2 separate regions of the Homo sapiens genome follow, and region 2 is linked to region 1. The links come from fine-mapping of genetic effects on gene expression. Tissue or cell type: whole blood. Region 1 holds a variant in brackets; the other region holds the start of a gene. All regions are shown on one strand. Distances are from middle to middle.

Region 1 (8,103 bases):
ACAGGCATGTGCCCACTACTCCTGGGTAATTTTTGTATTTTTAGTAGAGACGGGGTTTCACCATGTCGACCAGGCTGGTCTCGAACTTCTGACCTCAAGTGATCTGCCTGTCTTGGCCTCCCAAAGTGCTGGGATTACAGGCACAAGCTACTGCACTGGGCCATGGCCAGGATTTTTATGACTTGTAAAACCACTGTCTTCAAGGAGGCTATAAGTTATTATGGGAGAAAAGTAAAGGGCTTTGTAAAGGGGAGAGCATGTGGATTTTGTGATGTAATTCTCAGTATACCTTCCTTCCTTCCTTTCTTTCTTTTTTTTTTGAGACAGTCTTGCTCTGTCACTTAGGCTGGAGTGCAGTGGCATGATTGACAGGGTTTCGCCAGGTTGGCCAGTCTGGTCTTAAACTCCTAACCTCAGGTGATCTGCCCGCCTTGACCTCCCAAAGTGCTGGGGTTACAGGCCAACATGGTGAAACCCCGTCTCTACTAAAAATACAAAAATTAGCTGGATGCAGTGGTGGGCGCCTGTAATCCCAGCTACTTGGGAGACTGAGGCAGGAGAATCGCTTGAACCCAGGAGGTGGAGGTTGCAGTGAGCCAAGATCATGCCATTGCACTCCAATTTGGGTGACAGAGTGAGACTGTCTCAAAAACAAAAACAAAAACCTGGAGGGTTAGAGGAGGGAAATGGGGTGATGGAATTGGTCTGTACAATTTTCACTGTGAATTTGGGGGAGAATCCCCCCCAAAATAGAAGAAAATTAGGATAAGGCCAGGTGCAAATTGTCAGTGTGTAGAGGAATTGGGTACTTATGAGGAGTAATACAAATAAGAGGTGAAGCTGAAGCACTGGGTTGGGGACCCTATTGTAGACCTTTAATCATAGTTCAGGTGTTTTTTTGTTTGTTTGTTTGTTTGTTTGTTTTTGGAGACAGAGTTTTTGCTCTTGTTGCCCAGGCTGGAGCACAATGGTGCCATTTTGGCTCACTGCAACCTCCGCCTCCCGGGTTCAAGCAGTTCTCCTTCCTCAGCCTCCCAAGTAGCTCTAGGGATTACAGGCACGCACCACCACACCTGGCTAATTTTTTGTATTTACTAGAGACGGGGTTTCACCATGTTGGTCAGGCTTGTCTTGAACTCATGACCTCAGGTGATCCACCCATCTCGGCCTCCCAAAGTGCTGGGATTACAGGCGTGAGCCACCACCCTGGCCCAGTTTAAGTGTATTTGGAGTGACTTTAGGGAATCATTGAAATTTTACCTGCCGGAAAGTGGCACAATTTAGGAAGATTAAATCTAGTTGCTTCTTGAAAAAGTGTGTGGGCTGGCCGTGGTGGCTCATGCCTGTAATCCCAGCAGTTTGGGAGGCTGAGGTGGGTGGATCTCCTGAGGTCGGGAGTTCGAGACTAGCCTGACCAACATGGAGAAACCCCGTCTCTACTAAAAATACAAAATTAGCCGAGTGTGGTGGTGCATGCCTGTATTCCCAGCTACTCGGGAGGCTGAGGCAGGAGAATTGCTGGAACCTCGGAGGCCGAGGTTGTGGTGAGCTGAGATTGCGCCGTTGCACTCCAGCCTGGGCAACAAGAGCAAGACTCCGTCTAAAAAAAAAAAAAGGAGTGTGTGTGTTAGAGTGCGTGCACACACGTGCAGGAGAGATCGCAGTGGGAGGCAGTTAATTGGAACAATATAGAGAAGGGGCTGCTAAGGACCTGAGTATTATGTTTATATTTAACAATTTAAATTAAGATAAGGCTGTGTATGGTGGCTCACACCTGTAATCCCAGCACTTTGGGAGGCCAAGGTGGGTGGATCACCTGAGGTTGGGAGAGACCAGCCTGACCAACGTGGAGAAACCCCGTGTCTACTAAAAATACAAAAATTAGCCGGGCGTGGTGGCATATGCCTGTAATCCCAGCTACTTGGGAGGCTGAGGCAGGAGAATCACGTGAATCCGGGAGACGGAGGTTGTGGTGAGCCGAGATCGAGCCATTGCACTCCAGCCTGGGCAGCAGGAGCGAAACTCTGTCTCAAAAAATAAATTAATTGGCCGGGCGCGGTGGCTCACGCCTGTAATCCCAGCACTTTGGGAGGCCGAGGCGGGCGGATCACGAGGTCAGGAGATCGAGACCATCCCGGCTAAAACGGTGAAACCCCGTCTCTACTAAAAATACAAAAAAATTAGCCGGGCGTAGTGGCGGGCGCCTGTCGTCCCAGCTACTTGGGAGGCTGAGGCAGGAGAATGGCGTGAACCCGGGAGGCGGAGCTTGCAGTGAGCCGAGATCCCGCCACTGCACTCCAGCCTGGGCGACAGAGCGAGACTCCGTCTCAAAAAAAAAAAAAAAATAATAATAAATAAATAAATTAATTAATTAATTAAGGTAAAAGTGTTCAGCTCAATATGTGAGAATTTCCATAAGCAAAAGCCCCTCATTTGTTATCTGGTGTTGATTGAGGATGATTACTAAAGTGATACCTTTTATCTGCTCAATCTTCATGTTAGACACATGTATGGAATGTCATTTAAGTGTCATATAAAATGGAGTGTGGTCCATGGTGTCTGTTGGGAACATTGAATTGTTAAATTCTTTAGGATTTTCTGCCTTTGTTACCTGGCTCTTGTTCCTTATCCTAATCGCCTAAAACAAATCCCTGAGGCTCCTTTCATTGGACCACCCTTAATGATTTAGAGGAGCTGTTGTTTGTTAATCTTTTCACATTGTCATCATTTTGGTTACCTGTCTTTGACTATCTTGAAGTTTTTCAGAGCCCATTTTATTTTTGGAACTATAAAATGAAACATACTTCCCCTTGTATAGAGGCCTAACAGTAAAGAGTACAGAAATTTTGTGGTTTCATATGTATAGGAAATGCTCCCTTATTCTGAGTTTTTGTTTTTTGTTTTTTTTTTAATGTAGAGTATAACTTACTAAATTCTTGTGGAGTTCGCTCATGCAGAGATACTTGGTTTTATAATGTTATTCTTTTCCATCTTGTATTAATCGAGTGTACTTTTCCTTTTTAAATTGAATTCGTTTTTGAATTCTATTGTGGTGCTTCTTTGAGATAAAATTTATGTATGTATAGGTGGTGGTGTTTTTTCTTTTTTTCTTTTTTTCTTTTGAGATGAAGTCTCGCTCTTATCCCCCAGACTGGAGTGCAATGGTGCGATCACGACTCACCGCAACCTCCGCCTCCCGGGTTCAAGTGATTCTCTTGCCTCAGCGCCCCAAGTAGCTGTGATTACAGATGCCTGCCACCACGCCTGGCTAGTTTTTGCACTTTTAGTAGAGATGGGGTTTCACCATGTTGGCCAGGCTGGTCTGGAACTCCTGACCTCAGGTGACCCATCCGCCTCGGCCTCCCAAAGTGCTGGGATTACAGGCGTGAGCCACCACGCCCGGCCTGTATAGGTCTTAAATTCAGTAAATTTTGACAAATGTATACACCTGTGTAACCATGACCTCAGTCAAGGTACAGATATGCAGTGACTTTTTCACTATCACACCCATTCCTGCCACTTTTTTTCATATCCTTACCACTATCTGGAATTTTTATGTGTGCCATCTCCAGTAAAATACAACCTGCATATGTGCATGGATCTGGTAAAATTGTTACTTTTGCTATCCCCTTCTTTCCTACTAAGTGCATCAATAAATAGCATCCACTCTATATTTGTGTCTTTCCTCAAGTAAATACATGAAAATGAGATCCTGCAAGTTTGTGTTTTTATATTAAGTGTTAACTCCAGAGATTGCAACACTGTTCTTGTAGGATGTTTTTTTGGGGAAAGCATTCCTCTTATGGCAGCCTTGTTGGCCTGAGGCAGGGCTTAAACAAACTGATTGAGCAGGCTCAAAAGGACAGTATCGTAATGGACTGGAGTGGCCAGATCTTTCTACAGAAGAAAGAATACGGTAATTTGGCCACGCGCAGTGGCTCATACCTGTAATCTCAGCACTTTGGGAGGCCGAGGTGGGCGGATCATGAGGTCAAGGGATCAAGACCATCCTGGCCAACATGGTGAAACCCCATCTCGACTAAAAAATATACAAAAATTAGCTGGGCATGGTGGCACACGCCTGTAGTCCCAGCTATTCAGGAGGCTGAGGCAGGAGAATTGCTTGAACTTGGGAGGCGGAGGTTGCAGTGAGTGGAGATGATGCTGTTGCACTCCAGCCTGGGCAGCAAGAGGAAAACCTCTGTCTCAGAAAAAATAAAAAATAAAAGAATATGGTAATTTAAGATTCATATGTTTTATCCATCTTGAAAAATACCTTGTGCACATATTTAAAGTCTTTTTACACATTGATTTATTTTGAGTCTATTGTATCTGTCTACATTATTTAAGCAATGTAATCACTAAAAATTTAAGCACTGGGTTGAGCCTTCTGGCATCCCATTAGAATGCCTGGGGAAACACACTTCTTGCCAATTGCATGCCTGCTGATTGGGGAATGAAACGCAAATATTCCAGAATCAACAGATTTCTTTATTTTATTTTATTTGTCACCCAGGCTGGAGTGCAGTGGTGAGATCTTGGCTCACTGCAAACTCTGCCGCCCGGGTTCAAGTGATTCTCCTACCTCAGCCTCCTGAGTAGCTGGGATTACAGGCGACTGCCACCACGCCTGGCTAATTTTTGTAGTTTTTAGT[A/G]GAGATGGGGTTTCACCATCTTGGCCAGGCTGGTCTTGAACTCCTGACCTTAGGTGAGGAGGAAATGCCATTTTGTAAATCCCAAAGTGCTGGGATAACAGGTGTGAGCTACCATACCTGGCCTAGAATCAACAGATTTCTGAACATACTGAATTACTTCTTTCATATTAATTTTCAGACCTTTTCAAAAAAGGATTTGGATACCCTGTTGATATTCATATTCATATTATTATGTTGGCATTCATATAATATGTGTAGGACTTTATAGTTATTTAAAAACCTGTTATAGACTTTTTTGTTTATTATTTAAAACTTTTTTCAGAGGGACTTGTTGCTTTTTTTTTTTTTTTTTGAGATGGAGTTTTGCTCTTGTTGCCCAGGCTGGAGTGCAAGGGCACGATCTAGGCTCACGCAACCTCTACCTCCTGGGTTCAAGTGATTCTCCTGCCTTGGCCTCCTGAGTAGCTGGGATTACAGGCATGTGCCACTCGCCTGGCTAATTTTTTGTATTTTTAGTAGAGACAGGGTTTCACCCTGTTAGCCAGGATGTTCTTCATCTTCGGACCTCAGGTGATCCCCCCTGCCTTGGCTTCCCAAAGTGCTGGGATTACAGGTGTAAGCCACCTCGCCCAGCCTCAGAGGGATTTCTGGTACCAGAATTATAGATTGTTTTTGTTACCGAACTTCCTAAGTTATGCTCGTTCTTTGTTTATTAAGGGGAGACACTAGATTTTTTTTATCACGCTTTTTATCATCATAGAGAACTTTAGTAGTCTACAAGAATATTGTTAGAGGCTTAGCAGTGGCCTCACTGCACATACATGTATATGTCTTTGGGAACCTACAGGTTTTTAAGAAGTCGTTAAACTTAATATTTACTAGATATTTGTTTTTGGATGGCATCTAATATATTAATAGCCCAGAAAAAAGGCGCCACTAATGAATATGTCTTGGATTACATAGTGACATATATTAGCTTTTCGTCCACATTTGATAACATTGCTAATATTTTTTTTTTTTTTACTGAAGCTCTTTGAATTTAAAGTTTTCTCTCATTTAAATTTATTAATTGAAAACATACCTTTACTCTGTTCCCTTTAGCATTTCAACCTGATGTTAAAAGATGTGTATGTGTGATATGTGTGTTTGAAATTTTAACTTTCATCTTGGAGTATTTAATTCTCTGAAGCAGTGCATGACTCTTGCTCTTCAGCCTCTTGAGAGTGTCCCTGGTTTATATTCCTGATGATACAAACCCTGGAATTTCTTGTCTGAAGTGTTAACACTTTATTTCCAGGTCCTAATTTGATTTGAATAGTGGAAGTTCAGATTCAATGCATTAATGACAGATTCTATGTTGACTTCTTCAGATTTGCCAGACAGAAAAATCTACTTATGTGAGGAAATCATTAGGCTTTTTGACTATCCTCTTTGTATAATGAGACTCTTTTCTCATTAGATGAGTAAAAAGATCCAGAGATGATCACCAGTATCCCCCAGAATTCATATATATTTAATTGAAAAGAAAGCAAATCCTGGGATTCTTTCCTAAAAAGGTTGATTACATTTCTTGCCTGTCTGTACGTTCTTTGTATAAACGTGAAGAAAAATAAAAATATAGGTTTTCCAGCACTGGGACTATGAAATTTGAGATTTAACATTTATTCATTAGTCAGATTTAAAGGAATCTACCTTAAGTCATAGTTTATATTGTTTTTGAAGGACCTGAGTAAGGATTCTATTAAAAATGATTAATTCTGTCATTATTTGAAATATTGATAGGATTTTAATATGTTCCTTTTTTGAAAATACTAGAATTATAAATTACACTTAATAGCAAATAGGTCGTAAGTATGTGGTAATCAATTTATTGACTAAAAATTTTGTAAAAGATGCCTTTTATTTAAAGTGGCCTATCGTATAGTTACTATAATGCTAGTGCTCTCTACATTTTCATTGTAATCTTACTGAAGAAGTAAAAATTAATCATTGTTCTCCCCACTCTAATATTAATTCAGAAATCATAATTGTACACATAGGGTACAACGTAATGTTTATATATATGTGTGTAATGTAGTATGATTAAATCATGCTAATTAACATACTATCGCCTTACTTTGCTTACTTATATTTTGTGGTGAGGCATTTGAAATTTACTCTTAATTGTTTGAAATACATTATTATTATTGCTATTGTTATCTGTGTCTTCTCTTTGCAAATAAATACATCATTATTTACTATGGCCACCCTGTTGTGCAAAGATTTCAAAAACTCTTCTCCTATGTGAAATTTGTTCCCTTTTCTTTTTCCAAAAAAAAAAAAAAATCCACCTGCTGTCTTAGCATAAAAATAGAACCAGTGTGTTTTAGATTCCTCTCTAAGTGTCTTTATTTTTAAGAATGTATTTTTTTTTTTTTTTTTTGAGACGGCGTCTTGCTCTGTTGCCCAGGCTGGAGTGCAGTTGGCACCATCTTGGCTCACTGCAATCTCCACCTCCCGGGTTCAAGCGATTCTCCTGCCTCAGCCTCCCATGTAGCTGGGATTACAGGTGCATGCCACCACGCCTGGCTAATTTTTGTATTTTTAGTAGAGACGGGTTTCACCGTGTTGACCAGGCTGGTCTCAAACTCCTGACCTCAGGTGATACGTCCGCCTCAGCCTCCCAAAGTTCTGGGATTACAGATGTGAGCCACCGTGCCCAGCTAGAATGTGTGTATTTTAAAAAGTTGATCCTTCACAGATATTTATCTTAGGAGAGGCTGGTGTCATGAAAAAAGCTATGGACTAAGAATGGGAAGACAAAGATCTTCTGTATTGGCACTACCAGCTGTGTCCCTCTGAGGGGGTAATTTTTGCCTTTTGAAGACGTTGGGAGGGTTAAAGTTCAGGAAATTATTTTTAAAACTGTTCCAGTGAATATTTAGAAAAATATTAGTGGAGATAGAATTAATTGCTCTGCAGTGGAGTGGCTCTCTTTCTACATTTTCTTTTTTTCTTTTTTCCTTTTTTTTTTTTTTTTTGAGACGGAGTCTCGCTCTGTCCCCCAGGCTGGAGTGCAATGGTGCGATCTCAGCTCACTGCAACCTCCGCCACCCGGGTTCAAGCGATTATCCTGCCTCAGCCTCCTGAGTAGATGGGATTACAGGCATGTGCCACCGCACCCAGCTAATTTTTTTTTTGTATTTTTAGTAGAGGCGGGGTTTCACCTTGTTGGCCAGGCTGGTCTTGAACTCCTGACCTTGTGATCCATTCACCTCTGTCTCCCAAAGTGCTGGGATTACAGGTGTGAGCCACCGTGCCTGCCCTCTTTCTACACTTTCTAGTATAGTCCCATTAGGCTGTAAACCTATTTCAAGTTGAACGATAAGAAATTTCAGCATAGCTCTGCATCATCATTTTTTCTCCATATCTTGTATTCACACCTTAAGAATTTGTTACTAGTTGAAAT
Region 2 (8,103 bases), 71 kb before region 1:
AAAACCCTTGCCACACTCTGCACACTTGTATGGCTTCTCCCCCGTGTGTGTACGCCTGTGTTTGACCAGATCTGAGCTCCGGGGGAACTCCTTCCCACAGAAGCCACACACGTGGGGCTGGCTGGGTCCAGAAGGCTGGGCCCGAACTCGGGGTCGAGGGGCCATGGGTACTGGGCCAGGTGGGTTATGTGGCCGCAGCAGAGTGGATGGTGGTGGTGGCCGGGCCCGTTCACCACGGTGGGTGCGGAGGTGCTTGACTCGGGCTGAGCTGTCAGCAAAACCCTTGCCGCATTCAGGACAGAGGTAGGGTTTCTCCCCTGTGTGCACACGATGGTGTTTCACCAGGTCAGAGCTTCGGCGGAAGCCCTTGCCACACTCAGGGCACTTGTGGGGCTTGTCGCCCGCCAGTGGTGGGGGTGGCTCCCCAGCCTGTGGGCCCCCAGGCTCTGGCTCCAAGCCAGGCAGGCCAAAAGGCTCACCCGAGTGTGAGGGACTTCGAGGTGTCAGCGGGGGGCTGGTGCCCAGAGGAGGTGGGGGTGGGCTGGGGATCAGAGCGGGTAGGGGATAGCCTGGGAAGCTGAAGTCCTGGGGCTCCATGTGAGTGAGGCGGTGGCGAAGAAGGGTGGAGCTGAGGCTGAAGGTACGGTCGCATTCCGGGCAGGCATGGGGCCTCTCGCCACTGTGGGTGCGGAGGTGTTTGACTCGGGCGGAGCTGTCCGCGAAACCTTTGCCGCACTCTGGGCAGAGGTAGGGCTTCTCACCCGTGTGCACCCGCAGGTGCTTCACCAGGTCGGATCCCCGGGCAAACTCCTTTCCACACACATCACAGCCAAAGGGCTTGGGCCCCAAGTGACTACGCTGGTGACTCAGGAGGCTGCAGCTGAGCACAAACCTCTTGCCGCAATCAGTGCAGATATATGGCTTGTCCTGGGCCTTCGGTCCCTGGGTAGCTGCCGTGGCTGCCCGAGATGGCTGCCGTCGGGGCACCACTGGTCGGGGGGGCTGCTCCCCCCGGTGTGTCCGCTGGTGCTTGATGCGGGCGGAACTGTCGCCAAAGCCCTTGCCACATATGCCACACTTGTAGGGCTTCTCACCAGTGTGTGTCCGCTGGTGTTTCACCAGGTCAGAACTCTGCCGGAAGCTCTTGCCACATTCACCACAGATAGTGGGGCGCTCACCAGCAGGGATCCGGGACCGAGGAATCTTTGGGGGACCCTGGGCTGGTGGCCGGGCTCTATAGGGCTTCTCCCCACTATGAGTCCGCTGGTGTTTGATCCGGGCAGAGCTATCCCCAAAGCCCTTGCCACAGACCCCACACTTGTAGGGTTTCTCCCCTGTGTGGGTCCGCTGGTGTTTCACCAGATCTGACATCTGCCTGAAGCTTTTGCCACACTCACCACACACAGCGGCCCGATCACTACTAGCCTGGCCCCAGCGTGGTTCACCCAGGAGCCGGGGGCCTCTGTCCCGAGGCTGAGGCTTTCCTAGACCCTCTCTCTGGACCCATAAGTCATCCCAGTTCTGGATGCCTTCAGGTTTGAGAGAGGCATTTCCTACTTCATGATCTGGAGCCAAATCTTCTTCCTTGAACCCCAAGTCATCTTCCTGTGGGGTATGTTCAAACTCATTCGGCTGAGAAATCACGTTCTCACTCCCTAGACCTGAGGAAAGAAAAGGAAGTTGTAGACCCTCCCCTTTGGCTCGGTACTTATCTTTGACAGCAACCTCTCCAGGAAGACTCCCTTGACAATCTGTGGTCACAGGAACCCCAATCTCTCTGTCCTCTCAACCTCTGGTGCACTTACTATCTGTGCCTCTCAATAAAAACTTCTTTTTACTGTGCCCTTAATGTATGTCATTCACCAAACTCAGCATTAGTATTAAACGCTTGCAAACAATACTATAACACTATGACTATCCCCATATTACAGGCATGGAAAGACTCAGAGAATTTAAGTCCTTTTGCTGGAGGTTATAAAGGTTAGAAAGTAGCAAAGCCAGGCCAGCAGGGTGGCTCACACCTGTAATCCTAGCACTTTGGGAGGCCGAGGTGGGTGGATCACTTAAGCCCAGGAGTTAGAAACCAGCCTGGGCAACATGGTGAGACCCTAACTCTACAAAAAAAAATACAAAAATTAGCTGGGCATGGTGGTGCACACCTGTAGTCCCAGCTACTGGGAGGCTGAGGTAGGAGGATCACTTGAGCCCAGGAGGTGGAGGCTGCAGTGAGCTGTGATTGTGCCACTCTAGCCTGGGTGACACAGTGAGACCCTGTCGCCAAAAAAAAAAAAAAAAAAAAAAAGTAGCAAAGCGTGATGTCTAACTAAGGTCTCTCTGACACTCAAGCCCGTGTTAATCCCTACATTATATTGTCTATTTGGAAAACTTGGTATTTGCTATTATTATTGTATCTTATTATATTAGCCCATTCGGTAATTTATTACATCAGTTATCCTGTGTGTACCTGAGAGGACCCAGGCACACATCCCTTCCTCAAGAAGCTTAGGGTGGTAGGAGAGATAAGATTAAAGTATCAATGGTTATAATTGTGGGTGCAGAATAACTAGAATAACTATGTTGTCACAAGAGAGATAGGAGATAAGGAAATAGGAACCGGCATTACGGCAGAGCGAAGAGAAAATAATGGAGTGGAATGGAAGATAAGGTGTCAAAGGATGTTGGGACTAACCTGAGCACGCACGGTTTGGATTGGACACTAGCTAAGGCTTTTAATTAGGAGACTGGGGGACGCTAGGGAAGGTTTTCCAGAAGAGACACAGGATTATATCTGGACTTAGATCAAGCTGGCGAGAGAATGCATCAGTGGAGAGAAAGGGGCAGAGAGGAGGCTACTGCAATTGCCAGGATAAAACAGAATGAAGCCTGAAGTAGGGCAGAGGCAGTAAGGATGAGGAAGGCCGTGAGGGAGGGGACAGAGGCCGTGAAGAGCCCCTCCCGGCCTGGCGCACAGTTGGTGCTCCGAAAGCTCCCCTCCCCCTATCTCCCCAGAGGCACAGCTCACGTCCGATCTTCCAGGATCTCGGCCGGCCACAGCCAAGCATCGCAGTCCCCACCGGCCGTTACCTGTCCGTGGCGGCGCACGGCCGAGGCCCTCACCTGTGCGGGCGCCTCTCTGTGGCTCCCTCTCCTCCGGGCGGTGGAGATCTGGGCCCCAAGGCTCTACCGCGCGCTCCATCGCCGGCACGCCGCCCTGAGCAAGGGGACAGACAGCATCCCGCGGTCACGCAGCCATGTGTGGCCCGCGGCGCCCTGCCGCTGCCCTCTGCCGGCCAGCGCGGGCACCGGGCGGCGTCGGGTCCCAGGTACGGGCGCGGCTCCCGGTGCCCCCTGCCCGCGCCGCCGGCCGCCCCTGCACCTGCTGCTCCTCCCAGCGCGCAGCCGCCGCTCTCACCTTGCCGGCCGCCTCCGGCTCCGCCACCCCGGCGCCCTCCGGAGCTCCTCAGCGGGGTGCAGGCGCCCGAGCCGCCAGCGGCTCCGGGATGCAGGCTCCGCGCCAAGCCGGGAGCGGGCTCGGACCCAGGCGTCCCGGGGGCGGCCACCGGGGGCGGGGACGGGAAGCGGAAGCGCGGGGCCGCACGGAGCCGCTCTAGGACCTTGGAGGAGCTGCGGGCCTGTGGGGGTCGCCCGCGTCGGCGGTAGCTCTGTGGCCGGCGGGCGGCAGCGTGCGGCCCAGGGGCTACTCTAAGCCGAGGCCGGCGGCCCGAACTCGGTGGTATTAACCGTGTGCCTCCTGGGCTGCAGCTGGGTGGTGAGGCCCGAGGCTCTTCGTAATTGTGGCTGTGTGTCTCCAGCCACCCGCGCCGACCTCCCCGGCCGGCCGACAGCGCCAGCCACTCCGACCTGGGAGAGACAAAGAAAGAGGGATCCAAAGACGGACCCGGGGAAAGGGGTGGGGGAGAGACCAAGGCAGACAAAGGGCGGCGGAGACCCCAGACGGGGCGGGGCGGGGCGCCGAGACGTGGGAAACAAAGCGGGGCTGGTCCGAGAGGCCGAGGGCCCGGGGTGGGGGTGGGTATGGAATGGGGGCTGGGCTGGGGAGACCGAGGCAGGAGCAGAGGCTAGAGGCAGACACCGGGTAAATGCTGCTGGAGAGATGGAATCAGACCTGGGGCCCGGAACAGAGACCCTGAGCCAGAGACTCACATCAGAGCCCTGAGTCACAGAGGACGCAAAGGCAGAGAGAGACCGAGGGACAGCGGCTGACCAAAAATAAGGGGAGCCAAAGATTAGCCGCTAGAGACAGAGACGTAGAAACGGATAAGAGATAAAGTCATTGACGCAGAGTCCGAGGAGCAGTAAGAGGCTGGGAGCCTGGAGAGTAACAGGCCCAGAAGCAGAGGAACAAAAGACGATAGTGAGCGAAACGGGCAGAGACAAAGAGAAAGAGACACAAAGAAAGAGGCGGCCAGAAAGACTCCGGACAGGTCGGCAGCCCTATAGAGGCCAGGCTCAGGGAGAGGCTGAAGAACAAGCCCTGTTTCCCATCCTGGTGGGCCCCTGGCTGGAGCTGTGTTTCCAGGTTCCCAGGCCCTAGGAGCAAGATCCCAGTATCCGCTCTCTGGGCGGGCTTGGTTTTGGGGTGGAGAGAGTGTCTGGAGGTGTCTTCAGCCCCTCTGCCAATGATGGTGGGGGTAACTGTGGTTTATGCATTAATTCACATTTATTAGCATCTTAGTGCTAAGCCAAGAGTTGGGGATAAAAAGTTGAAACACCTGCAAGATTTGTCCTTGGAGAGCTACCAGTCTAAAGGAGCAAGTACACAAATCACTGAAATTAGAGAATTTAGCTGGGCCTGGTGGCCTGCCCCTGTAATCCCAGCTGAGAGGATTCCCTGAACCTGGGCATTCAAGGATGCAGTGAGCCATGATCGTGGATCGTGCCACTGTACTCCATGCTGGGCAACAGAGCGAGACCCTGTCTCTTTAAAAAAAAAAAAAAAGAGAGAGAGAATGGGCTGGGCCCAGTGGCTCATGCCTGTAATCCCAGCACTTTGGGAGGCCAAGGTGGGAGGATCACTTGAGGCCACTAGTTCGAAACCAGCCTAGGCAAAAAAGTGGACCTTGTCTCTACAAAAAAAAAACAAAAATTTAGCAGCGCATGGTAGCACATATCTGTGGTCCTGGCTACACTGGAGACTGAGGCAGGAGGATCACCTGAGCCCAGGAGGTTGAGGCTGCAGTAAACCATATTTGTGACACTGCCCTTCAGCCTGGGTAATAGAGCGAGACCCCATCTAAAAAAAAAAGAGAAAGAAAGAGAGACTGTTAAGGTAGTTATATGGACCCGGCCAGGTGCAGTGGCTCACACCTGTAATCCCAACACTTTGGGAGGCCGAGGCAGGTGAATTACATGAGGTCAGGAGTTTGAGACCAATCTGGCCAACATGGTGAAACCCTGTCTCTACTAAAAATACAAAACTTAGCAGGGCGTGGTGGCACGGGCCTGTAATCCCAGCTACTCAGGAGGCTGAGGCAGGAGTATCACTTGAACCTGAGAGGCGGAGGTTGGAAAGAGCCGAGATCACGCCACTGCATTCCAGCCTGGGTGACAGAGTCAGACTGCGTCTCAAAAAAATAAATAAATAAAATTTAAAAGGCCGGGTGTGGTGCCTCACACCTGTAATCCCAGCCCTTTGGGAGCCAGAGGCAGGAGCTCACTTGAGGTCAGGAGTTCCAGACCAGCCTGGCCAACATGGTGAAACCCCATCTCTACTAAAAATAAAAAAATTAGCAGGGCGTGGTGGCAGGCGCCTGTAATCCCAGCTACTTGGGAGGCTGAGGCAGGAGAATCACTTGAACCCCAGAGGCGGAGGTTGCAGTGAGCTGAGATCGCGCCATTGCACTCCAGCCTGGGGGACAAGAGCGAGACTTCATCTCAAGAAAAAAAAAAAAGAGTTATATGGACCAATTCACGATAGTGTGGGAGAACAGGAAGGGTTCTAGTTTGTAGTAATGAATCTCTGTGTGCCTGGCATGCATGGATGTTAGCACTGACAGAAACAGGGACCAGAAATCAACACATACCTATTGATCACTAGCTAATACCTAAACACTGTCCTAGGCCCTGGAAATAAAGAAACTCTTCAGGGAGCTCTTGGCCCAATAGGATATGGAGTTGTCAGATGGTGTGACAGGTTCTATATTGACTGTATGGACAAAATTTTATAGGAGTGTAGCGCACAGAGATACCTTCTGTAGTGTTCAGTGGGTGCAGATACTGTCTTTAAAGCCATTTATGCAGAGTGTGGTTCTTGGCCTTTGTCACTTAATTGCTACTTGACTTTAGGGAAGTTACTTAAGCTTCTGTTTCCCAAACTGTAAAATAGGGATGATAACAGCTAACTTTGATGGTTGAGGATGAATATGTGTAAAGCACTTAGCAAAAGTATCAGCTATTACTCTAATTGGTTTGATTTCGGCAAAGTCCAGACTCTGCCTGGAGTGGGGGCTGAATGAACAACTCCAGGCAGTGGGGGCTGAATAAACAGTGGGCCACATACTAATTGAAAACCTAATATGGGCCAGGCATGGTGGCTCACGCCTGTAATCCCAACACCTCGGGAGGCTGAGGTGGGCAGGTCTCTTGAGTCCAGCAGTTTGAGACCAGCCTGGCCAACATGGTGAAAACCCATCTCTAAAAAGATACAGGGCCGGGGGCGGTGGCTCACTCCTGTAATCCCAGCACTTTGGGATGCCGATGTGGGTGGATCACGAGGTCAGAAGATTGAGACCATCCTGGCTAACACAGTGAAACCCCGTCTCTACTAAAAATACAAAAAAATTAGATGGGCGTGGTGGCAGGCGCCTGTAGTCCCAGATACTCAGGAGGCTGAAGCAGGAGAATGGCGTGAACCTGGGAGGCGGAGCTTCCAGTTAGCCGAGATCGCGCCACTGCGCTCCAGCCTGGGCGACAGAGCGATACGCCGCCTCAGGAAAAAATAAAATAAATAAAAAGATACAAAAAAGTTAGCTGGGAGTGGTGGTGCACACCTGTAGTCCCAGCTACTTGGGAGGCTGAGGTGAGAGGATCTCTTGGGCGCGGGAGGTGAAAGTTGCAGGGAGCTGAGATCATGCCACTGCACTCCAGCCTGGGTGACAGAGCAAGACCCTATCCCACCCCCACCCCCCCGCCAAAAAAAAAGGAGAAAGAAAAGGAAAGAGAAAGAAAACCTTAGGCTGGAATCAGTGGCTCACGCCTATAATCCCCACACTTTGGGAGGCTGAGGCAGGTGAATCACCTGAGGTCAGGAGTTCGAGACCAGTTTGGCCAACATGGTGAAACCCCATCTCTACTAAAAAATACAAAAATTAGCCAGATGTGGTGGTACGCGCCTGTAATCCCAGCTACTCGGGAGGCGGAGGCAGGAGAATCGCTTGAACTCGCGAGCCGGAGGTTGCAGTGAGCTGAGATCACACCACTGCATTCCGTTCTGGGCAACAGAACAAAACTCTGTTTAAAAAAAAAAAAAGAAAAGAAAAAGACTGCCAGGAGCAGTGGCTCACGCCTGTAATCCCAGCACTTTGGTAGGCTGAGGCGGGCGGATCATGAGGTCAGGGGTTGGAGACCAGCCTGACCAACATGGTGAAAACCTGTCTCTACTAAAAATAAAAAAATTAGCTGGAGGTGGTGGTGCTCACCTGTAATCCCAGCTACTCAGGAGGCTGAGGCAGGAGAATCATTTGAACCCGGGAGGCAGAGGTTTCAGTGAGCAGAGATCACTGCACTCCAGCCTGGGCGACAGAGTGAGACTCCGTCTCAAAAAATAAAAATAAAAGAAAACCTAATGTGTGCTAGAAGCTTGAGATCCAAAGATGACTATGGATTACGACCTATCTTCAGAGAGGAAAATAGAGAATAGTTCCGTTTTAATGTGCCGTGAGTTTACATATTAGGAAAGCAGTGAAAGATGAAGATAGAATGTAAGTTTATTCGGCCGGGCGCAGTGGCTCACGCCTCTAATCCCAGCACTTTGGGAGGTCAAGGTGGGCAGATCACGAGGTCAGGAGATCGAGACCATCCTGGCTAACACATTGAAACCCTGTCTCTGGCCAGGCGCGGTGGCTCACGCCTGTAATCCCAGCA

Evidence for each region. PIP is the estimated chance that this variant, and not a neighbour inherited with it, causes the effect.
Region 2: ZNF48 starts here. The variant in region 1 is fine-mapped to the expression of ZNF48 in whole blood (TOPMed, PIP 0.95).

Annotation. Positions count from the first base shown.
Region 1 is chr16:30,320,127-30,328,229 of GRCh38, reverse strand. It overlaps the pseudogene SMG1P5. Among named protein-coding and RNA genes, the nearest start is that of CD2BP2, 31 kb to the left of the region's middle. RefSeq lists a silencer at 3,131-3,180. The variant A/G (reference allele first, on the strand shown) is at 4,656.
Region 2 is chr16:30,390,888-30,398,990 of GRCh38, reverse strand. It overlaps ZNF48 (zinc finger protein 48), which reads right to left and starts at 3,571. Exons shown (of 3, transcript NM_001214909.2): 1 at 3,413-3,571; 2 at 3,118-3,211; 3 at 1-1,661. The coding sequence starts at 3,196. RefSeq lists enhancers at 1-218, 2,553-3,149, 5,151-5,651 and silencers at 3,120-3,379, 3,470-3,659.